Regions from separate parts of the Homo sapiens genome. Here regions 2, 3, 4, 5 and 6 are each linked to region 1. Evidence: fine-mapped expression QTL. A gene starts in region 1. Each other region holds a variant in brackets. All regions are shown on one strand. Distances are between the middles of the regions. Region 1 holds the start of CDCA7L (cell division cycle associated 7 like). Region 2 overlaps DNAH11 (dynein axonemal heavy chain 11). Region 3 overlaps DNAH11 (dynein axonemal heavy chain 11). Region 4 overlaps CDCA7L (cell division cycle associated 7 like). Region 5 overlaps DNAH11 (dynein axonemal heavy chain 11). Region 6 overlaps DNAH11 (dynein axonemal heavy chain 11).

The links. PIP is the estimated chance that this variant, and not a neighbour inherited with it, causes the effect.
Region 2: its variant is fine-mapped to the expression of CDCA7L in whole blood (INTERVAL, PIP 0.99). The same link has a PIP of 0.9 or more in T cells.
Region 3: its variant is fine-mapped to the expression of CDCA7L in whole blood (TOPMed, PIP above 0.99).
Region 4: its variant is fine-mapped to the expression of CDCA7L in cerebellar hemisphere (GTEx, PIP 0.93).
Region 5: its variant is fine-mapped to the expression of CDCA7L in whole blood (INTERVAL, PIP above 0.99).
Region 6: its variant is fine-mapped to the expression of CDCA7L in esophagus muscle (GTEx, PIP 0.95).

What each region holds. Positions count from the first base shown.
Region 1 is chr7:21,943,618-21,947,793 of GRCh38, reverse strand. CDCA7L (cell division cycle associated 7 like) reads left to right here and starts at 1,895. Exons shown (of 10, transcript NM_018719.5): 1 at 1,895-2,013. The coding sequence starts at 1,990. RefSeq lists enhancers at 1,297-1,546, 1,231-1,941, 1,937-2,086 and a silencer at 2,227-2,276.
Region 2 is chr7:21,849,825-21,853,824 of GRCh38, reverse strand. DNAH11 (dynein axonemal heavy chain 11) reads right to left here. Exons shown (of 82, transcript NM_001277115.2): 67 at 1,194-1,358. Among named protein-coding and RNA genes, the nearest start is that of CDCA7L, 94 kb to the left of the region's middle. The variant T/C (reference allele first, on the strand shown) is at 1,992.
Region 3 is chr7:21,883,475-21,887,474 of GRCh38, reverse strand. It overlaps DNAH11 (dynein axonemal heavy chain 11), which reads right to left. Exons shown (of 82, transcript NM_001277115.2): 76 at 3,065-3,184. Among named protein-coding and RNA genes, the nearest start is that of CDCA7L, 60 kb to the left of the region's middle. The variant G/A (reference allele first, on the strand shown) is at 2,136.
Region 4 is chr7:21,921,189-21,925,364 of GRCh38, reverse strand. The region is part of intron 1 of CDCA7L (cell division cycle associated 7 like); the gene reads left to right. Among named protein-coding and RNA genes, the nearest start is that of CDCA7L, 23 kb to the left of the region's middle. The variant A/G (reference allele first, on the strand shown) is at 2,289.
Region 5 is chr7:21,896,243-21,900,242 of GRCh38, reverse strand. DNAH11 (dynein axonemal heavy chain 11) reads right to left here. Exons shown (of 82, transcript NM_001277115.2): 80 at 795-907; 81 at 123-263. Among named protein-coding and RNA genes, the nearest start is that of CDCA7L, 48 kb to the left of the region's middle. RefSeq lists enhancers at 1,871-1,930, 882-2,081. The variant G/T (reference allele first, on the strand shown) is at 1,621.
Region 6 is chr7:21,591,287-21,595,286 of GRCh38, reverse strand. DNAH11 (dynein axonemal heavy chain 11) reads right to left here. Exons shown (of 82, transcript NM_001277115.2): 14 at 3,710-4,000. Among named protein-coding and RNA genes, the nearest start is that of DNAH11, 50 kb to the right of the region's middle. The variant TC/C (reference allele first, on the strand shown) is at 1,716.

The DNA of each region.
Region 1 (4,176 bases):
CAAAATCTGACCTGCTTCAAATTTGTGCTCCCTTTTCCAAAATTGATTTGATTTAACCTACAATGAAAAGAAGTGCAAACAAGATCAGCAGTTCATGAGGAAGCAACTATCTAAAAAAAAAAAAAGAGGAAGAAGAGCTCTGATTGAATTAATTTTCACTCTAAGCTTCCTGGCAGCCAAAGGGAAAAAATACAGAAAAATGGAAAGAATGTTGGATCTGGAGGCATAAGGAATGGTTTTCAGTTTGGCAGTCTGCTGCTGTCACTTAGTGGCAGGGTGGCAGGGATCTCTTAATGTATTTTCTTAGATTCTGTTTCCTTATTTTAAAAATGTGGACAATAAGGATCTGGAAGGATATTGAGAGGATTCAAGGAGATACTGCATGTGAAGGAAAACTCTAAAGCATAATAAAAATGAAGTGGCCATAATGAATAAATAACATTATCCAATAAAAACAAAACATTTTAAGTCACACAATGTTGTATTGGTTTTACTACCACCAGGAAGTGAGAACACTGAGGGCTGGAACATGAAAGCACATAACACATGTTGTTTGCTGAACTAACCAAAGGAAGGAAGGAAACCTTTTCCATGTTTTCTCTTCAAGCTTGAGTAAATGTTTGGCAAATTTCATTCACTCGTTCAATAAAGAAAAGATGAACGTCAGATCCTAAGCAGCTGAGAGGGGCTGCAGAAGGTCCTATGCGTACAGGATGCTCTACTGTAAACCTATGACCACGGTTCTAAATAGGTGTGCAACACTGTCCAGCAAACCTGCTGTGATTTCAGGACAACTTCATTTACCATTCTCCCCACTCTCTACTTCAACTCTCCCACAATTTCCACAAACTTAATTCCTCACTCTTCATATCTGAACTCTAAGAAGTATTCCCTGACCTCTATCAGATTGTCTTCCTATTTCACACCACCATTAATACCACTTGCCTTTTTTCTCATGGCATCATCGCTCCAAATTTACATTTATTTGCATCATCATTACATTTGTCATTGATAGTGGTATCAAATTAATATTAATTATAAATCTAATTTATAAAATTTACATCGTTATTACACTTATTTGCATCATTATTGTATTTATTTAGAATAATGCAATTAGGTTGGTAACTGGCTCTCAGGCTGTAAACTCCAACAGAGCAGGGGCCTGTTTTTGTTCACCCTTCTGTTCCTAGGACTAGCCCAGTGCCTGATGCTTAGTAGATGCCGGGGTCAATTCTGTTAAATTAGTCAGCATTCCTGACCTCTACAAACTCTTTGTCTGGTGGGTGTGGAGGCCTACTGTGTAATGGCCGTCTAAAGTTTCAGGCGGGTTTGCATCTGTCCACCTGGGCCTTGGTAAAGAAACCTGGGTTGCCTGTTCTGCAAAGTGAACCCTGTAGCAAATGTTTTGGGAGACAGAATCTTCCCAAAGAGAACCCTGCCCCGTTACAACAACAAAACAAAACAAGCCCCAAAGCCGCCCTACAATATTTGCCTGGATCAGAGACAGGGGTTGCAGCAGAAGCTCGCGCCCCAGGGCATGACCTGGAATAAACCCTGCCAAGTATCCAGCGCGCGTGCCAGCTGGAGGCTGCGCCGGGACAGCCCCCTCATTTCTCCCGCGCTAAACCCCGCCGGACGGCTCCACTCCCTCCCTCTGCTGCAGGGGGGAGCCCGGCGCCCTAACACTGGTAATTGCTCTTGCCGCGCCCAACTGCAGCCCCCTCTCGCGCCGCCTGCGAAGACAAGGTCAGTGGCCGCGAAGTTGGAACGTGATCGGAGCCACGAGGCCCAGTGAGGCGGCACCGAGGGGGCAGCGCAACGCGCTCCCCCTGTCCAGGGCGTCAAGTGCGCCCCTCCCGGGGCCCGCCTGTGCTCCGGGCGGAGCGCGCTAGCTGCTCGGGCGCGGGGCGTTCTTGGTGCGCCGGGCCGTGGTGAGTCCGGGCTCCCGTGGCCGCGTGCTGGGAGGAGACTGGAGCCCGGTTAGGAAGAATGGAGTTGGCGACTCGCTACCAGGTGAGGGTCCGGCCGCCCGCCGCCGTCCGGACGCACCCACAGTTTGACTTCCCTTTGCCACCCGGTCCTGCTGGCCTTGGGCTGGAAACGTGGCCCTTGGCTGCGGCACTGGGGATCTGGCGCGCCCAGCCGGTTGAGTGCCGGAGTGGGCGCGCCCTGCAGGTGTGCGCAGTGGGTCACGTTTGTGCTACGCGGACCACAGAGGCCGGTCGCCCCAGCACACAACCGCGCTCAGCCTGGCGCTCTGCTCAGTCTCGGGTGGCCGCCGGGGGTGCAGGCGGGGAGCTAGCGGGGCGCAGCGCCTGCGTTTGCAGCCCTCGTGAGACGGGGGAGGGGCTTTTTTTGTGCACTCCCCACACTTTCTCCGGGAATTGGCACAGAGATCAGGAAGCTTAAGAAAGTTGTAATTTTTTTTTTTTAACAGTCGATCGCCAGACCAGTCCAACTTGGATAATGGAGTTTAAAAATAATAACTTTAGTGTTTATTCTAGAACTTTTGTAAACGTTTTCAAGGAATTAGTAACCATTTGGGGGAAATGGTAACGTCATTGGGCCGAGTTAAACAAGCTGCAAGATCCCAAATCATATGCACAGCACGACCCCAATTACGCGTTAAGGGCCTAACTCGTCTTTAAAACTCATTAGCAAACACTTGAGTAAGTTCCCCCAAACGTTTCAGTGAGTAGTGGGAATGTGAACGTGACTTCAGTTTTCTCTTTTTACTTCTTAAAAGAGCTTTTCTCTACGTTATCGTAATGGAGATACATGTTTACTTAGAAGTAAGCAATAAAAACATTTTTCATAAGAACTAAAAATACAACCTTTAAAAAGGGAAACAAGCAGCCACGCCTCTGCTTGTGGGAGCACGGAGATGCTTTGTGCGAGGATTGTTTTTTTTTTTTTTTCCACTTGTTTTATTGAGAGTCGCGAGACTCACTGCTTCCACCTTGCTTCCGACTGGTGTTTACTTTCCTCCACCTGCGTGCCTGGCCCGGGAGAAGGGGAGGCGGGGCCGCCAGCGTTGGAAGGCGCAGAGTGCCCGGCGCCCGAGCCCAAACCGCTGTCACCTGCCCGAGTCTGGCGGCAAAGACTGAGCCACTAACGGTAGCTTTGGCCTTTTAGTAATTTCTGAAGCCTTCCTGAAAATGGTCGCTTGAGAAAAATCTGTTGTTGATGTTTCTGAGAATATTTTTAAAATGCCTCCTGTGAGATAAACTATTAAAAGCAAGGGAAACAGTAAAGCCTACGGAATGAGACAGGGTTCGATTTTTTATTTTTTGCCACTGGCTTTTACCGTGTATTAGCATCCTTTTTTTTTTTTTTTTTTTTTTGGAGACGGAGTTTCGCTCTTGTCCGGGGTGGAGTGTAATGGCGCGACCTCGGCTCACTGCAACCTTCGCCTCCCGGGTTCAAGCAATTTTCCTGCCTCAGCGTCCCGAGTAGCTGGGATTACAGGCGCCCGCCACCACGCCTGTCTAATTTTTTGTATTTTTTTTTTTTTTTTAGTAGAGACAGGGTTTCACAATGTTGTCCAGTCTGGTCTTGAACTGCTGACCTCAGGTGATCCACCTGCCTCGGCCTCCCAAAGTGCTGGGATTACAGGCGTGAGCCACCACTTCCGGCTGGCGTCCTAACCTTCTAGGAGTTTCTGTTGCTACAGGACTAAAAACAAAAAACAAACCCTCTGGATGGAGATTTGAGCTCCTTGTGAGTTTAGTCAGAAAATGTATCTGGAATTTATCACTCCGGAGCTCCTTGTGAATGTAATCAGAAAATGTTTCTGGAATGTGTCACTCCTGTTGTTAAGCTGGAGAGTTCTTTGCACTTCCACTACTGATATTCATAATTCATGCTTAGGAAACTCAGAAGTCCCAGAATGTGTAGTTGGAAGTGAGCGTTTACTGCCACACAATGAGGCTAATTTTTGGTAGTTCTAAAATGTTAAATAAACTATTTATCATGTAGGGGTTACCCACAAATTATATCCGATCCATTATGCACCAATTAAGGCAAATTACTATATGTAAGATGATCAGGGTTTTTTTTTTTTTCCTTTTCTGAAGACCTAATTGGCAGTGCAAATCAAAGATGTGTGATGGTTTTTCCAGTGGAAATGTTCCTGTTCATCGTAATTTAAATGTGCACAGATTATAGTCTCTAAAT
Region 2 (4,000 bases), 94 kb after region 1:
TTCTAACTTTGCACTGGATCATCCATATGTCCATATATTTCCATTTAGTTTATCTTTATGTATTAGCCTCTGGGTACATTCAGAGAGATAATTTAAAAAGAAAAACCAGCACCACCATCAACCAACATATCAGTTTTACCCAAGGCTCAAATATCTATTTCTTTTATCTAGGACTACTGCTGGTCCCATAGGATACAGTATTTTCCCCAACCTTCTCTATAGAGTTGACTCATAATATTTGTGTATAAAAGGAAATAAAATGTAGGGCAGAGAAGGAAGTCACTACATGGTGATATATTAAGAAGATAGGAAGACACATTTTAAGAGACAATTAGAAGTTAACTTCAAAGCTAAGTTAATTTACTTAATTGTTCTAACTTTACCATCTTAGGAGCCACCTAATATTCACTTACTTGAAAAGACAGAGTAATTTGGGATTCCATTTCCTCGCTTAATTTAAGACAAATATAAAGGATGCGTAGTGACACAGCTTCTGCTGGGTAATTAATAGATTACTTAGTAATAAGGATATTCCAGAAAGCAAATAAGGGTCTAATTCACACTGAAACAATGGCATTTTAAGGGTTAACGGTCATCTGTGAAAGTCCAAAGTGCACATCACACATAAGGCATATTGGGACCCATGTTGGACATTAGCAGGAAGCCTATTTAATAAAAATTTCTACTGGCTTTTAGGAAATGTCATTTTTCCTGGGGTGAATAGTGCATTTGAGTACAGCAGGAGATTATCCTTTGCTCGGTATCCTGCCACGGCAGGCCTGTAAACAAAACTTTCACTCTAAGAATTTCTTTAAAATGTCCAACAGCTTGGAGAACCTGCAGAGAAACTGTAGGATATGAGTTTGGAAGAGCCGGATGCTAAGGCTTTTCAGATTTTCAGCCATAGAAGCCAGCAGGCCTCAGCTTTTCTTCACATTTGGTCACCCAGGAAAAATAATAGCCGGACAGTGTCTAATTTGAATGACATCTCTATGGAATTAGGAGAAGCACACATTCAACCATCTCCATCTCCATTTACAATCCCACACAGTCCAACTGCAGCTTATTAAATCACCTGAATTCCACACGCTGGTCCTCTTAGAGGAATTACCAAGTCTGATCACACTGCCCACCCCACATGTCTCATTCGAACAGAGCATTAGAATCTGCCAGGCACCCTCTGCCCTTCCTACCTTGTGCTCTATCTCTGCCACGGTGGTCTTTGTTGCCTCCAATCTCTCTACCAGTTTGGTGTCATCCAGAAAGCTTCCCTCTGCCGCAGAAAGGCGCAAAAGGAGATCGTCTTCCAGATACTTGAGCTCAATTTTAAAATCATTTTGGTGCTTTGTCAATACCAACTAATAAAAACCAAGAAAAGTGTGGGAAATGGTGGTTAAGTACTTTTTTTTTTTTTTTTTTAGAGGAAGTCTTGCTCTGTCGCCCAGGCTGGAGTACAGTGGTATGATCTTGGCTCACTGCGACGTGTGCCTCCTGGGTTAAAGCGATTCTCCTGCCTCAGCCTCCCGAGTAGCTGAGATTACAGGTGCCTGCCACCACATCCAGCTATTTTTTTTTGTATTTTAGTAGAGACGGGGTTTCACCACGTTGGTCAAGCTGGTCTCGAACTCCTGACCTCAAATGATCCACCCACCTAGGCCTCCCAAAGTGCTGCCATTACAGGCGTGAGCCACTGCGCCTGGACAAGTAAATGTTTTTAAACCAGAGTTTCCTTAATCACAAATTTCATGGAATCAGTATATAATAAAACACCCTTAACATTAAAATCATACCAATCACAATTTTTAGAAATTCTTTAAAAAACTTCAGAAGGTATGTTAAGATCTAGTTGCACTCCAGGGTGCAGAGTATAAACGCTTAACAATAATTTAACATCATGAACCACAGGAAGAATCTGTTTAAGAAAACATCAGAAACTTCTGGTTTCTGCTCAGACATATAAAGGCTTAGAAGTCTCATTTCCGTTCTCAAAA[T/C]AGGAAAAAAACTCATCAACAATTCTTCCTACATACATCAGAGAACGGAGGTCACAGGACAAATTGCCATCCTAAAAACAGGCAAACACAGAGAATCACAGCTTCTCGGGAACACTGACATGCAAGTAGAGCTTGAATTAAAACTTCAGAGGGGCCCAGTCTTCGTAGTCTCTACACTTCTTTGAGTTTTACCTCCAGGAAATGCCATCCGGTTCTTACAGTGAAGGTCAGATAAAATCTACACCAGCTCTGGGCTAAGGATGGGAAAAGTAACCATTATGACATAAGCTCAGAGGGAAAGTAACCATTTTAAATATGTCCAGAACTTTCTGTTCTCCTTAACCAAAGCCTGCCCACAAGGGAAACTACTTGGCCAGTGCCTAATATGACCTGGATGTATTAATCTGCTCTCAAGGTGCGATAAAGGACTTCCTGAGACTGGGTAATTTAAAAAGAAAAGAGATTTAATTGACTCATAGTTCCGTATAGCTGGGGAGGCATCAGGAAACTTACAATCATGGTGGAAGGGAAGCAAACATGTCCTTCTTTCCTTGGCGGCAGCAGAGAGAAGTGCCCAGCAAAGGGGGAAAAGCCCCTTATAAAACCATCAGATCTTATGAGAACTCACTCACTATCACAAGAACAGCATGGAGGAAACCAATCCCGTGATTCAGTTACCTCCCACTGGGTCCCTGCCACAACATACGGGGATTATGGGAACTACAATTCAAGATGAGATTTGGGTGATGTCATAGCCAAACCATATCACTGGGGAAGGCAGAATTCCTGTCCTTTAAAAAAGGCTGAGTAACTCTTCTGAAGGCCACATCCCAGTGATTCACAGCTCCTAAAAAACCCTGAGATGTAATTATAAGAGAAAAGAATGCTTCCCCTCCATAATACCTTACCAACACATTGACAGACTCCAGTATAATATCAGTGGATTATAACTGAGAGATTTGCAAAGCACAGATTCTATTTAAAAATCAGTTTTTAGGGAAACCTAAGGACAACAAGGGAGACAAAAACAAGGACACCAGGTAAAACTGCAGCTAAATGAACATGAGACACAGCCGTAACTCCTAGCCCTGGAAACATAAAACCTCACACTAAACCTCTGTTTACTTTTGTGACAGTTATCTAATACATCATGTCTGGTTTTCAAGGTTTTCAACAAATAAGTACAAGGTATACTTAGAGGCAAAAAAAAAAAAAAAAAAAAAAAGAAGAAGACAGAACGCAAACCTCAGGACAAGACTCAGATGTGGCAGAAATTTTGGAATTATCAAACTGGGAGTTAAAAATAACTACTTAATGTGCTAACGGGTTTAATGGAAAAGTGAACACCATGCAAGACCACATGGGCAATGTAAGTAGAGATAGAAACTCAAAGAATGAAAAGGAAATGCTAGACATAAAAAACAACGTAACAAAAATGAAGAATTTTTTTTCTTTTTCTTTTTCTTTTTTTTTTTTTTTGAGACAGAGTCTCCTCTGTCGCCCAGGCTGGAGCGCTGTGGCGCCATCTCGGGTCACTGCAAGCTCCGCCTCCCGGGTTCACGCCATTCTCCTGCCTCAGCCTCCCGAGTAGCTGGGACTACAGGCTCCCACCACCACACCTGGCTAATTTTTTGTATTTTTAGTAGAGATGGGGTTTCACCGTGTTAGCCAGGATGGTCTCAATCTCCTGACCTTGTGATCCGCCTGCCTTGGCCTCCCAAAGTGCTGGGATTACAGGCGTGAGCCACCGTGCCCGGCTGAAGAATGTTTTTGACGGGCTCATGAGTAAACTAGACACAGTGACAAGAATCAGTATGCTTAGACATATGTCATTAGATACTTGAAAAAAAAAAAGAATAAAAATTAAAAAGGAAAGAATATCCAAGAACTGTGAGATGCTTACAAGGAGAAAAAAGAAAAAAATGAGCAGAAGAAAGATTGGAAATAATGGTAGCTAAAAATTCTTCAAAATTAATGAAAGATACCAAACCAAAGATCCAGGACACCCA
Region 3 (4,000 bases), 60 kb after region 1:
TTACTTCAAACCCCAGATTCTTGTTATTCTATATTACTAAAATAGTTTGTATTATATGATAACTTTAAGGTGACCTGGTACCTTATTCTCTGAAAGTGATTTACTGTATTTCTTAATTAACGCTGCCAAATACATGCTTTATGTGAGAAGATGTTTTCTTTCTTGACTTTGGCCAGAGACCCTCTAAAGCCCACTGGAGAACTCTCTCTGAGAGCAAACTCATTTATTCAACAAGAAACTCACTGATCCTCCTAACAGCAAGATATCACTGAAAGCATTCTGATTCTTTGGATAAGAGCAGCAGAACTTTAAACCCCACACCATGAATGGGTTGCTTTTTGATCATGTTCCAATGCAACCAAAGACACTAATTTCCAAATATGTTAACCACTTGTGGGAAGTGGCAAAAAGATGTCCTGCAGATGAAGTGTTAGATCATGTTGCTAATCATATAAACAGCATAAACAGGAGAAACGTGCATGAGAACAAAATAACTGGGATTTGCAGCCTCTGACAGCAAGTCAGTTAAGTGCTTTAATTTCCTTTGGTGAGTTGAGGAGGTACCTCTCCAGTGAGGATGCCAGCTTGCAAAATGAAGCATTTCAATCCTGGAAACCTCGCCAGATCTGTATGTAAGGTCAGGTACCTAAATTTCTAAAGGGCTTACACACATCACTGATGCCCCTTCAGGTTTCATCACCTATATTTATTTTACAATTATTTGAATGGGAGTTCAGGCTTGTGAAGGTTAATGGACTGCTGCATTTGGCAACAGTAATTCTCCCCTCAGCCACAGGCCAGAGCTAGGGGAGCTCCTCGCGGGCCCCTTGCCCTCCACCATCATTCGGAGAAATCAGCCTCTGTAAAGGTCGCATGCCTGGCACTGTTTAGCTTTCCCATCTCCATGGTAACTTGCTCCCAGACCTTTCCTGAGGAGTGACTTCCAATTGTGCTAAATTGGAAGTCTCTCTCTGACATGTGAAATCTTGCTCATTAGAACTAAGGAAAGACCATGAGACTCACAATCAAAAGAAACAATTACATAACATTGTGCATTTTTTGCACTGTCTCCAAACTGTTCCACATTATTAAAAGTAGTAACAAAAGAATGTCCCCAGTTTTCTATATTAGACTAAAATACACTATGTTTTCCTGGTGTATTTTAGTCTAAAATAGACTAAATATTAGACTAATATGATTTTAGTGATTTAATCTAATATACACTAAATATTAGACTGATATGATTATATTACTTCTCAAAATGAACTCTAGGAAGGTGATCAAATCTATATAATGCTTCTCTGAGGTGAAATTTTCAGAGAAACTATAAATAGGACATCACTCAAACTATTCAAAGCATTGCTTTAAACAGAGTTGGTGTCTCGCCCAACTGGAAATAGACATGATATGGTGTACAGGTGCTTTACGTTTCCAAGAAATAACCAGGAATGGCCATGAACCTGGATGCCATGAGGGAGAGAGAGCATGAGAAAACTACAGCCACCACGCTCACCCTCTGTAGTACGAGAAACAAAAATGGAGTACTTTTTCCAGAAAACACAGCCCCGGGCTGGAACCATTTCTACACAGACACAGGGTTACTAAGATGAGAAATGGGAAAAGGATGCTTGGTCTTTTAAAACTCCACCTACAGGGGTGATCTACCTCTTCCTCACGAGAGAAGGAAGAATGAGGTTCTCAAATCACCATACTTGTCTTTTTAACTGACACATAATAATTGTACATATTGATGGGGTACAATGCGATGTTTTGATACATGTATATGTTGTGTAATGATCAAATCAGGCAATCAGCAGGCCCATCATCTTAAATATTTCTCATTTCTTTGGGGTGGGAACATACAAAATCCTCTCTTCTAGCTATTTTTAGATATACAATATTGTATTGTTGACTACAGTTACCCTACTGTGCAATAGGACACGAGAACTTACTTATTCTTCCTTTCTAAGGATGGTAACTTTGTATCTGTTGACCATTCATTCCCCATTCTCCCCTTCCCCAGTCTCTGGTAACCACTGTTCTATTCACCATTTATAGGAGATCAGCTTTTTAAGAGTCTTTATGTGTGTGAGAACATGTATTTGTCCTTCTGCGTCTGACTTATTTCATTTAAC[G/A]TAATGTCCTCCAGGTTCACCCTGGAGCATCTTTTCTCTTTTTAAAAAACATAACTATATTACTTTATTATCACACATAAAATATTAACGGGAATTCTATATTACCATGATATGTTAATGTTAATTTCCCATTGTGTCATAAATGTGTGTGTTTTTTTTTTTTTTTTTATAGTTCATTTGGAACAAGATCCAAATAAGGTTCTTACCTTGCCCTTGGTTGATATATATAATCTTTTTTTTTACTATCTTGTTAGATTTAATTTTATTTTAAATTGACAAATAATAATTATATATATTTATGGGGCACAGTGTGATGTTTTGATACACGTGTACATCGTGGAATGGTTAAATCAGGCTAATTAACAAATCTATCACCTCACATACATATTGACCACATTTTTCTTGAGCACATATTATAATTGAGTAACTGATACTGGTCCAACTGTAGACTATTTTCTAGGACTTCCATGACAGGCAGAAAAGAAACTTTAGTGAAATAAACTCTGGAATAGAAATCAAAAGACTTCTATCAAAAGACGCACAAAACTCTTGCCTGTGCCAACCTAGTGGCCTGGGGCAAATCCCCATGTTTCAGCATCTCGGTCTAGAAAAGGGAATAACAGCGTCAGCTCTGCATACCTCATAGGGTTTTTATAAAGAGCCGATGAGTCAGTGCATGTGAGGCTGCCTCACGCTGGTGCACTCTCTAGCACACACAGAGATCACCTGGAAGACTTGTGAAAATGCAGATTCTGATTCTGTAGGTCTGGGATGGAACCCGAGATTCCGCTTTTCTAAGAAATTTCCCAAAAGGCCAAGCATCCTCAATAACATTAAGAATTGCCCATAGTATAATTAGTTTATAAAATTCTTACCAGAATTTTTTGCTCAGTGAAATTTATTTACAAATTAATTTACAAATGTCTTACCAGAGATGGATTCATGAATTCTTCTAAATACACCCGACACAGTTTGCGATCCCAGTCATCTGTGATGTGGCCTCCATACATGATCTCACCAAAGAGATAACGGAGATCTTCCCATGGGACCTGTGGAGAAAACCACACAAATATTCACTGCTGGGTGCAGAGTCTGCCTCAGAGTAGCCAACCAGTAGCACGTGCCCCTCTAACACAATGCCCTCCAAGCCTCCGTCAATAGGAGGATTTAAAGGTGCTTCAGAAATTGTCTAAGTTTCTGCAGAGAATTTCTTGGGAGAATTATTTTCAGTGTCTTCTAATATAGTCAGTGAAAATTCACTAACATTGAGCTGTTTATGAAGATTTTTTTTCTTTAAGAGATGAGGTCTGGCTTTGTTGCCTAAGCTGGAGTGCAGTGGCACAATCACAGCTCATTGCAACCTTGAATTCTGGGGCTCCAGCAATCCTCTCGCCTCAGCCTCCCAAGTAACTAGGACTACAGGCACAGGACACTACATCTCGCTAATTTTTTAAAAATTTTGTAGAGATGGGGGTCTCACTATGGTGTCCAGGTTGGTCTCGAATTCCTGGCCTCAAGCCATCCTTCCTCCTTGGCCTCTCAAAGTACTGGGATTTACAGGCTTGAGCTGCCATGCCCAGCCTTAGGCAGATTTTAAAAGAAACTGAGTCATCCCTAGAACATGTTTGCAGGGAAAGTTTATACATTCAAATTCTCATCTAAAAATTGTGAAAGGATGTTGGTTCACAGGGCCTTTGAAGTATGACATGTTTTTATTATCTGCTTTATATCAGCTTGTATTATCTGATTCAGGAAAAGAAAGCAACATCCACACAATTTGAATTTGGGGTGTATTTAGAATCCTAGTATTTTCCAAAAGTCCAGGCAAACAAATCCCCTTGCCACAGATGGAGCTGAGGGCTTGT
Region 4 (4,176 bases), 22 kb after region 1:
TGCCCTTAAAAATGGAAGCAAAATGTTGCTAAATTGCTAGATGAAAAGAATACTTGTTTTACTTGCCATTCTTTTCATTACTAGGTAGGCTGAGGACTTTTAAAGTGTTTTTAGCCTCTTTTGTTTTCCCTAGTGAGTTTTCTTTGTTTTGCCATTTTGTCTGTGTGGCCATGGTATATATTTCATTTTGTATGAGGTTTTTAGCAATTTTAATAATTTGTCATATTTTTGTCAGATCTTTGCCCTACCTTTTTTTGTTTGTTTGTTTGTTTTTGTTTCTGAATTTTCTTCTTTTAAGTAGCAAGCTTTAAACTGTTACATGGTCAGTGATCTACTTTTCCATTTTGGTCTCCTTTACGTGATTGGTGAAAGTCCTCCCCATTCAGAGGTCAGATGCATGTGTGTGTTAATTTAATTCTCTTTTGTGCTTGTTTACCATTTAACTCGTCGACCATCTGATTTATTTGTTTTCTTTTTATTGAATTATGAGAATTCTTTATATTTTCTGGGTGCAAATCAGAGACAGCATTTGCAGATATTTTCTCCCAGTGTGTGGCTTTCCTTTTCATTCTCTTAACGGTGTTTTCTGAAGAGCAGAAGTTCTTAATTTTGATTGTTTACTTTACACATTTTAAAGATCTGTATTGTGTTGTATCTGGTGTTGTATCTTAAGAATTCTTTGCCTAACTTAAGGTCACAAAGATTTTCTCCTCTTCTAAAAGTTTTATAGTTTTATATTCAAGTTTGTGATCCATTTTGAGTTAGTTCTTGTGGTTGGTGCATGGTATGTACTTTTCTTATGGGCCAACAAATTTATTTGTAAAAAATTCAAAGAAATGATTTTGCATAAGAAAATAACAGTTCTCGCCCTTCGTGGTGTGTTAAAGAGGAAGGAATGCTCTCCTCTGTGTAGATCTCTTTTCATAGATGCAAGATAGTACACCTTGCAAATTCTGCTGTCATTGCTATCAAAATTGCTTTCAAAACACTTAATAAGGAAAATGCAGTAGTGTGCATAAATATCTTTTGTCTGCTTTTTAAATCTTAAAATAGAGCTTGCTTCTAGGTGAAATGTACACTGAATATTCTTGGAGTATATCAGAATCAGCCCTTGTATCAGTTGGCCTAAAAAGTGAATCTTATTTTCTTTCTCTTCAAAAACTAATACTGATAAATGTGTTCCTTCTGGGTAGGAGGTTGTATTTTTTAATCCAGGAAGGATGAATTTAGATATCATTGAGTTATGGAAAAGCTTTAATTTAAAAAATATTATACTTAATTTCACAATATAAAGTTTTAAATGAACAATACTTCACGTTAAAATATTTTCAAAGGTAAATACTTGATTGAATACCAACTGACAGTTTGATGATCTTTTTATAGCTTATTAGTTTTTTAAATTGAATTTTAATGGAGACTCAGGCTGACAAAGGTCAAAATGGTATGGAGACCTCCAGAGCACTGCTTTGTATGCCTGAAAGGCACCTACTCAACGAGAAGCCAGCAGCAACTCAGCAGGGTTTATTTTTATTAGTATAGCTTAGCTGGGATAGAACAAAGCTGGATTTCAGCCAAGTGTGGTTCTGCAAACAGCTTTGTCCTCCAGACTATCAGTTAACTAATGGGCTTACAGGCTCAGATACCTGGTTGGTCAGACACTAAAGCTGAAGCCTTGGCACCTACAATGATGTATCTGAACCTCCCTTAGGTGAGAGAGTTGGGTTCTTAAGCCACATGCCCCTAAAGTGATGGTACCATTAAAACTAGGCTAAGGTCTGGACTTGTTCTGTCAGTTTGGAAGATTTCATTCACTTAAGGAAGGAAAAATTCCCCTCTACCCCGGTTTTTCTTTTTTTCTTTTTCTCTTTTAGAGACAGGGTCTCACTGACACCCTGACTGTAGTGTAGTGGTATGATCATAGCTCACTGCATGCAGCCTCTAACTCATGGGCTCAACCGATCCTCCCATTTTAGCTTCATGAGTAGCTGGGACTACAGGCACACGCCACCACAACCCAGCTGATTTTTGTATCTTTTTTGGTAGAGACGGGGTCTCACCATGTTGCCTAGGCTGGTCTCAAACCCCTGGGGTCAAGTGATCTTCCTGCCTCGGCCTCCCAGAGTGCTGGGATTACAGGTATGAACCACCATGCCTGGCTTAAATTGTCTTTCTTGTCTTTTTTCGTTGAATTCTTTTTAAATTGTGCTAAGATACATATAACATAAAATCTCCTATCTTAGCCATTTTAAAATGTATGGTTCAGTAGTGTTAAGCATATTTAAATTCCA[A/G]AACTCTTTCCATCTTGGAAAGCTGAATCTGTATCCATTAAACAGTAACTCCACGTTTCTCCCTCCCCTCAGCATCTGGCAAGTGCCATTCTGCTGTCTCCGAGGATTCAACCACTCTAGGTACCTGTTATAAGTAGAATCATACCGTTCTTGGTTTTATCGAGACTGGGTTATTATCATTTAGCATAACGTCTTCAAAGTTCATCCATGTTGTGGCATGTGTCATAATTTCCTTCCTTTTTAGTGTTGAATAATATTCAATTATATGTATGTCTCACATTTTGTTTATCCATTTATCCATCGATGGATACTTGGATTGCTTCCACCTTTTGGCTCTTGTGAATCATGATGCCATGAATAAGGGAAAGGATATAAAGTTTTTCTTAATCTTCTTAACACTTTGATGCCCTCTACTATTACTACTAGGCACTAGTAGATATATTAATACTGTTGGTAATATTTGGAATTCTGGCATTTGCAGTTTCCTTGGTGTCCCACAGAGCCCTATGAGTTCCACCGTGCATGTTCCCTGAACAAGTTTGAGATCCAGTCTGTAGATGGGAAGTTTCTTACCAACACTCAGATTCTCAGGTTCTCTGGGAATGTTGGAGGTCAGACACACCAGACCCCTGTTCCTGCAGGGCAGTGATCAGCTGGAGTGGAGGAGTGGCCTGCCTTCCCTGATATATGTGTTCAGCCTACCAGTCAGCACCATCCCATATTGTCCTACAGCTGACCTACTGCCCTGTTACCCACCTGCTTGGCCCCAAAGCCTGTTGAGTTGGCATAATGTATTTCAGAGAAAAGCTCTCAGGTAATCTGTATGGCTTATAAGGGAAACCTGCAGTCCTTTCTGAAAGGGGAGCTGTGAATATGACTGCTTTGTAGAAAGATGTCTTAGGATTCTGGGTGAAAATTTTTAATTCCCCTCATGTAGGAATGTCACAGAGTGTACCTTTTTGACTTAGTATTTTCCTAGTAAAATACACCTTTCTTAAGAAAATGGCTACAAAGTCAGATGCATGTAAATGCTTTCAGCAAGGGTTTGTTGATCATCTGCTTTAGGCTGGGCTCTATGTTAGGTGCCTGTGGATTCCATTCTAGTACCTGTGTTCTCATAGAATTGAATCCTGGTCCCCCATATGACTTTTGATGATATTCACACTGTTAATTCCAATAAAGACAGAGTAGACAAACAGAAACTGTACATGAAAGGAATAGCATGAAGTTGTCGATTTTTAACAAGTATTATAAATAATGAAACGGTCTTTTCACTTTCAGATGAGAATTTTCCCTTTTTTTTTTGGTTCACTAGATAGTAGTTATCCTAATTCAGAAGTTCAACTAATGTAAATATCCATTGATTGAGAAATTTTGTATTTTTGTTGTTTTCAGTTACTTGTTGTAGTTTTCTTTTTGGTGAGTCTTATGATTGGCTTTATTGTAATAGAATGGAACACAAACTTTGAAAAAAAAAAAAAAAGGTCTTGCATTTTTGTCTAGACTATGCAGCTACCCAGTGGATCGCTGCTGAATGGAACAGGAAAGTGACAGATCCTTGGGCCTAATGTATCACTGTGTTGTGGAACTGGTCATTCATTAGAAGAGGTCCCTGTGTATCCTTTCTATCAGGTCCTTCTCATATAAATCTTGCTGCCTTTGTTGCATCTGTTAGACAAATCAGTTCGTTGCATTGAGGACACTTGAATATTTTACAGTTTTTTTTTTTTTTTTGGCAAATCTTGAAGCTTGTGACTATCTGAAACTCTTTTAATACCTTTTGAAGGATCAGAGCCCTGCGTACCCCAGGAATGCACACCGTTTTTTTGAAAGTGTGCTCTTTCCTTTTGTTCCTAATCAGTAATTATAGCCCCCTAATGGTACCTCT
Region 5 (4,000 bases), 47 kb after region 1:
TAATGACTAGCATAAGGTTACTGTGTGAGTGAGGAGATGCTGAGAAACAGTAAGCAGAGGACAAACACTGATCTGAACCTGAGTAAGAAAAGGTTCCCCACTTACCCCTTGGGGTGTCTTACCCTCCATGAAGAGTCCGTGGAGGTATGCACCTTCCCTTGGCGGGTGTCCATAATCTTCCTTTGTTTTTTTGGTAACATCAGCAGTCAAGCGCGTTTTATCCAGGGGCCACTCATTTTTTCGAGCCATCGTCTGCATGATTGCTTTGGAAATATAACAAAAATTGAATAGGATAAAAGTGTTGCATGTAAGGTTCCCGGGAGCTACCAGTAAATTGAGGCATCCTTTAGTCCCATAGGGTGTTTTAGGTTCTTGGGCATTGGCACATGGCTGCGCTGGAGCAGGGGGTTGGCCAACTAAGGCCTGCAGGACAAGCTCGCTGTTTCTGTAGATAGTTTTATTGGAATAGTCACAGCCATTTGTGGATTGTCTGTGGTTTTCGCACTACAGTAGCAGAGAAGCTATGTGGCCCTTTCCAGAAAATGTTTAATAAGAGCACACCGTGCCCCACCTCACTTGGCTACTCTTGCTGCTATAGGAGGTCCTTTCCCTCCTGCTGCTACTCGCCTGCCCAGGACTCTGTTTCCTCTATAGCTGCTGGTCCTTTCTATAATGGCTGCTGCTTGAGGATTGGTGAGCAGGGCAAGGAGACGCCATCATAGGTAAACAAAGCAGGGCTTCTGGTTAGGCTGTGGTCCTGTGTGCATCAGGGGCTGCACTGCGTCAGCCCTTACCAGTTAAGAAGGACTGAGGGTTGAAGAAGCCGGAGAGCCACACGACAGCCGGAAGGGTAAGGTCTTGTGTCCAAGTATCGAGTTCTCGGCATCGCAGGAGGAGGTCATTGAACCTGGTTTATGGGAGGGAGGAAGAAAAACTTGCTGTTCAGTAAAATAGCCATTTTCCAGTATGTTCTGTTGTGGGCGGTTAGGGCAGGGTGGTGGTGGAGGAGAAGTATACCACTGCTAGCTGGTAAAATCCTTCCCTGACAATTTGCAGGGCACTGTCCCTTTAAAGGGCTAGTTTGTTTCCCATTGGAGACTTGATGACTGTAGCGTTTACATTAGAGCAAGATACACTGAGGAATGTGGAAAACTCATTTCCATTTATGCAACAGCTTTTATTAGAGCCTCTTCATGCTATGTGGTGACTATACAAAGGTCATCACCCTATGACTTGGACTGACAAGCGCCAACTTGGAGGTATGGACAGGGTGTCTGAGGACCAGGGATGGCAAGGCTGTGATGGTGGTTACAAGACCAGAGTTGCCGGGAAATCTGATTGATAAGCAGAGGGAACAGCATGTGCGGAGGCAGTGGAGCACGTGACGGCAGTCTAAGCACGTGCAGTAGCTGCCTGAAAGTGGGGAGGAAAAAGGTTAATTAGGAAAACAAGTCAGCCAGGAATGGCACGCCGGTGGGTTGAGAAACGCTGCTGTTACGTACATGTTCTCTTCTCGGCTCCTCACAATTGGGCAAGGTAGGAAGTATTTGCAGTTGACCTATAAGGAAGCTGGCTCACAGAGGCTAGGGACAGATGAACCTCTTCGATAAAATTAAGAGA[G/T]AAGTGAAACCTTGAATTGTAAGTTTCAGAGGCTGCTTAAAGGGGACCAGGAGAATGGAGTAGAGAGCATAGCCTCAGTGTAAAAGCCAGAGTTCTCTAGAAGGAAAGGCTGGCACTGAAGTTTTCTAGGACCTTGTCTGCTTCAGATATGCAAAGGAAGTGGGGGTGAATGAGGAAACACCCTGACAAACCACATGGCAGAACATGTCTGCCTGAGATACTTGCCTGACTCTGGGCCGTGAAGAAGAAAAGGCTCAGAATGCTCACGGTCAAACTTACGTCACCACAAGGAAAATCTCTGTGCCCGGACCTATATTAAGTTCTTCCAGATAGCTGGATCCGAAAAAGCATACTCGACGATAAGAAGAAGAAACAGCATAGGCACCACACAAAGGAAAAAGGCGAATGAGAAAAGCAAAGGCAGGAAGACATTTCTCTCAAAATGTTGCCATCATGAGGATAAACACTGCAGACAATTTGTAACAACTAAAACAAGTGATTGTTGATATAAACAAGATCATGACTTAGAAGGGATCAGGTAGGAAATAGTAAGGAAATTAAGTTTGAAGACCCCAAATAAGAAGTAGAAAATAAAATTATAGAAATGAAAGCAAAAGTGAAACAGCGTAAGGGAGAATAATAAAAACAAATGGAAATAAAGAGGTAAAGGGTTAGAGTGAAAGCAATAAAATGAAAGCTGAAATGAGGCCAGACGTGGTGGCTCACATCTGTAATCCCAGCACTTTGGGAGGCCGAGGCAGGTGGATCACTTGAGGTCAGGTGTTCGAGACCAGCCTGGCCAACATGGTGAAACCCCATCCCTACTAAAAATAACAAAGTTGGCCGGGCATGGTGGCACATGCCTGTAATCCCAGCTACTAGGGAGGCTGAAGGCAGGAGAATCGGTTGAACCCAAGAGGCAGAGGTTGCAGTGAGCTGCGATCACGTCACTGCACTCCAGCCTAGGCAACAGAATGAGAATCTCTCAAAAAAAAAGTGTAATTCTAGAAAATTTGAGTTTTCCTAAATTATACCTTTGAATCTATACAATCAAGGGCACATCATGTTCCAAGAAAATTTGGTAGAGAGTAATCAATACTAAAATATAAAGAATAATATGAACAATGAAGAATCCCTGGATGGCCAGGGGAAAACATGAAGCCATTTATAAAGGGAAAAGAAGTATGCTAGCTTTTGACATCTCCACGGCAGCATTTGACAAGAGGAGAGTGATGGCTACAAAGGCCTCCAACTGAGGGTGTTATTATATTTTAATAACTGGCCAAACTGTCATTCAGGTATAGACATAAGAGTATAGGGCATGAAAAACCACCAGCAAATCCAACAAACAGGAAGGTTTATAACCCAGGAAATAGAGAAGTCTTGAAGAAAATACTTACTTGTAAGTATGTTTAAACTTCTCAGGAAAAGAGAATAACAGTCATAAAAACGAAAACAGGAAATTATAAAACTAAGCTAGGCACCCTTCCAAAAATATAAAAAACCTGGAACTGATAATTATGGACGATGAAATATACTTTATTTTTTGAGACAGGGTCTTGCTCTGTCACCCAGGCTAGAATGCAGTGGCATGATCATGGCTCATTGCACCCTTGACCTCTTGGGCTCAAGCAATCCTACCACCTCTACACCTTGAGTAGCTAGGACTACAGTCGCATGCCACCACACCTGGCTAATTTTTATTTTATTTATTTTATTATTGTTTTTTAGAGACAGGGTCTCATTATGTTGCCCAGGCTGGCTTCGAACTCCTGGGCTCAAGTGATCCTCCTGCCTTGCCCTCCCAAAGTGCTGGGCATGAGCCACTGCGCCCAACCTGGACAATGACATCTAAATAATTAAGAAACAGATTGGAGACAGTTGAAGATATAATGAAGATCACCCAGAACTGATGAAGTCTACAAGTATACAGCCGAAAGACACACTGAAAACGTTAAGAGGTCAGGCAGATAAATGTAGACATGAGGAGAATACGATATTCAGAGAAAAAAGTGCTAAGACTTTTTCAGAATAAAAGCTATGGATGGAATCTCACATTTATGACAGTACTTTAAAAATCCATACCTCAGTACAATAGTAAAATTGTTGAACATCAAGGGTAAAGAGAAACATTTTAAAACTTTACTTGGGAAGGAATGGCAAATATTTAAGACCAGATCCACCCTCTACAATCAAAGCTAGAAAACCATGGAGTTAGAACATCAAAGTGCTGAAGGAAAAATAATCGTGTCCTATAATTCTACGTATAAGTAAACTATCAATCAAGAAGGAGAGTGCAGTGAGGACAGTTTCAGAAACACAAGATGATTTACACCCCCACCCTCCAAGCCCTGCTCTATATTTTATACTCTGATAAAAA
Region 6 (4,000 bases), 350 kb after region 1:
GGTGATTAGGTCCTGAGGGCAGAGCCTTCATGAATGAAAGTACTGCCTATATGAAACAGGCCCAGGGGAACTTCCTCCATGTGAGGACACAATGAGAAGTTGGCAGTCTGCAACCTAGAAGAGGGGCCTTGCCAGAAACTGATCATGCTGGCACCTGGTCCTCCAGAACTATGAGATAACCATTTCTGCTGTTTTAAAGCTACTCAGTTTAGAGTATTTTGCTATATCAGCCTGAACATACGGAACCCCTAGATTACTAGTAAGAATGGCAACCTACCAGGTCGGCCTGCCTCTTCCCTAGCCTCCCTACAGAGGGTCTCAACACAACAGCCAGAAATCCTTTTAGAATGAAAGTCAGATTGTATTTACTCCCCTTCTCAAAATCTCAAAATTCTGCAGTGTCTTTCACATACCTCAGAGTGAGCCAAAGCCAGAATCTGCAAAAAGGCCTATGAAGCCTCCCCTGAGCTGCCAGTCCCTCACCACGCAGCTTAGCGTCTGACCTCACCTCAGCAACTCTCCACTCAGCTCCCTCTACTCCCCCCACACTTACTTCCCTGCTCCTCCTCGAGCATGCCCAGGGATCTCCTGCCCCAAAACTATCTCCTCTGCCTGGAACACTCTTCACCAAAGGCCCACTTGGCTGACTCTATCACCTCTGTCAAGTCTTTGTTCAAATTTCACCTTCTGGTTGAGGCCTACTCTGATCATCCTACTTAAAACTGCATCCTCGACCCCACCCTCCAGAATTCCCTTGCCCTGCTCCAATTTGATCTTTTTCCTGCAGCGCGTACCAGTTCTAACACAGCACGACTTACTATGTCACTGCTTATTGTCTCTCTCCTCACTTGATTCAAGTTCCATGAGAGCAAGGAACTTTGTCTGCTCTGCTCTCATATTTCAAAAACCTAGAAAGGTGCTGGGTACACACAATGCTCACAATAAATATTTCTCAAATAAGTGAATGATGATGGACTGCAAAGACAAGATACATAATGGGTTGCATACAATTCCCAGCAGGAAAACCGTAATCTATTTCTTGTTCTGCTGAGAATTATCCTAGAGACAAGGACCTTCATTTTACACATGAGAAAATTCAGGCCCAGCCTCTGGAAGACTCTGGTTTCCAGCCTTTACCAAGGACACTTTCCCTACCCCACACTGTGCTACTTCATGATGGCTTCAGAGTGTGTGTGTGTGTGTGTGTGTGTGTGTGTGTGTGTATGTGTGTATGAAAGAGTGTGCATGAGGGAGAAAGAGTGTGTGTGAGTGTGTGTGTGATATGTGAGAGGAAGAGACTGTGTGTGAGAGTATGTGACATACAGAGAAAAAGAGTATGTGTGTGTGAAAGAGAGTGTGTGTGTGTTAGAGAGAGAGAGATTTTGTGTCTGGGGGGAGCAGGGGCAGGGGAGGGGGTCTGTCTGCCTTGCCCAAAGGAGAGTATTCATGGATTAAGGACTGTGCTGGTCTATAGAGAAGACTCCACATAACAAGGATGCTCAGAGGAAACATGAAATACGCTCTTTCATTCCTATCCCTTTTTTCCTTAAGAAATAGTAACAACAAGAAATCAACTCCCCATGTTCCCATCATCAGCATTGCACATCTGTGAGCACCACATTCCTATCTTTGCCTTCCCTCCATCCTGTACTACAGATGAATGCTCCGCGCTCCTGTCTAAAGACACCTTCTACAGGTATTTACTAAATCCCATT[TC/C]CCTCAATGGCTTTCTTCCAACAATTTTTTCTCCTTCCTAGATTACTGCAGTTAACATACAAACATCCTGAAACATCAACCACTATTAAAAATAAAACCCTCCCCACCCTGATACACAGGCCCCAGGTACTGCCCAGTTGTTGGTTTGCCACACAGCAGAGCTCCTCAGGATCTCCTCAGCTGCCTCCACTCATATTTCCCCATTCTCTCATCAGCCCACTCCCACCAAGCTTCCACTCTGCCACCACATGAAATCACCTCTCCTCATCCCAATGACTTCCGTGCTGCCAGATCTGAGGGTTAGCCTCCGTCTTTATTTTCAGGTCCTACGTCAGGATGGGACAGAGTTGAGCTCTTCCTCCTCCTTGAAATCCCTTCTATTATTGGTTTCCAGGGCATCACTCTCTCTTTTTCAGTATCCTCTGTGGGATTTTCCTCTTCTCCCTGACCTAGGGAGGACTTCGAGGCTAGTTTTTGGGCCTCTTTTCTATCTACAATTCCCACATGTTCTTAATCTAATTATATGGCTCTAAATACCATACATATGTGCATAAATCTCAATTCTCTGTTACTTACCTGGATTTTGCCCTGAACACAAGACACATTTGCAATTCTAGTCTACTCAAAATGTCCCTTAGGACAAGCATCTCTAACTAACTTGTCCAAAACCAAACCTCCTTTTTTTTTCTGCTACAAAATCTGCTCACCACAGTCTTCCTCATATCATTAAAGGGCAACCCCAGTCCAGTCCAATCACTCAGACCAAAAACCTTGAAATCATCCTTGACTTCTCTCTCCTCTGATTCCTCAAAGCAAATTCTGCTGGCTCTGCCATCAAAATATCTGCAGGATATGAACTGCCTTGATCACTAGCACTATGACCCAAGGCAGCATCATTTCTCACCTGGATTATTAGCATAGGCTCTGAAGAGTCTCCCTGCCAACCACTTCTTTGCTTGCCTGTGGCTTACCCTCCACAGGGAAAGCCTTTGAGCAGAAAGTCTCTGGCTGCTCTTTCCCCTTACGGTAAAATCCAAAGTCCTCATAACAGCCTGCTAACCCCACATAATGTACCATTAGTCTCTTCTACCTCACCCTCTACTACCACTCCCCTTGCAAATTCTGATCTCAGTTTGCTGACTGATCCTGGAACAGGCCAGGCTGCTCCTGCCTCAAAGTGTCTATACTTTTGCTCTCCAGAATGTTCTTCTCCTGATATCCATATGCTTTGTTCCCTGTCAGTTCTCTGCAGAAATACTATCTTAGGAAAGAGGCCTGCCCAACCACCCTACCCGCAAGCGACTCCCTATCCCACCTGCTCTGCTCTATTTTTCATCATTGCTCCTATTACAACTGACATATCTATTTGTTCTTTTCTCTTGCTAACTTCCTCTGACTAGAGTGTAAGCTCCATGAAATAAAGGATTTGGTGGTGGTTGGCAGGGGAGCATTGTGTTGTTTGCTTTTATTTTCCTGCCTTCTGCCTTTTGTGTGTGTGTGTGTGTTTTTTTTCTGTTTTCTCTTGCATTCACAAGCCTAGATGAGTGCCTGTTACTGTTTTAGGAACTCAAATCTTTGTTAAAAGGAGAGTAATTATTGTTGCCACCCTTAGGAGATGGTTGAGAGGGTACCTTGAGATGACCTAAGGAAGTTGTTTGTTTGGCACATACGAGGCAGTCAACAAACAGTGGTAGCTATAAGGAGCATCCAAAAGAGGATGCAACTGTGACAAGATAAAGATTCTATCACTAGCCTTTCTGTTTAATCAACACATCTCACATTCTAATCTCTTCCCTCAGGAATGACAGTGGTGAGGGCTACAGAAATTGCAGGCAAGTAACACAAATTCCTCCACTTTAAATGCCTAATAATACCATTCATAAAGCTCTTTCAGGCTTGATAAAAGAGTCCCACATTATTAGGTTAAAGATTTTTGCTCTTCTCTGAACTCAATGAAAAGATCTATAAATCTTGAAAGGTTAAAAGCCATTACCTCGACCAAGTTGTGGATCTTGCAGCCATCTCCTTGGATTAACTTGTATTTTTTTGTAAACAAATCACCCTTGTCCTCCAAGGTGAAGGCTGCCTCTCGTCTGTGCTCTCTCCTGGGAGGTAGCACGCACCTGGCCCAGCCCCTCATGGTCTGCTGGATCACCTTCACGTTTTTCTGTGTGCGCTCAACTCTGTGCTCCAACTCGGACGTGGCTGCCCTCACCCTCTCGATGTAGCCCCAGCAGTCATCCTGCCATGTCAGCCACGTTGTGGCTGCTGTCAGCTGCTCGTC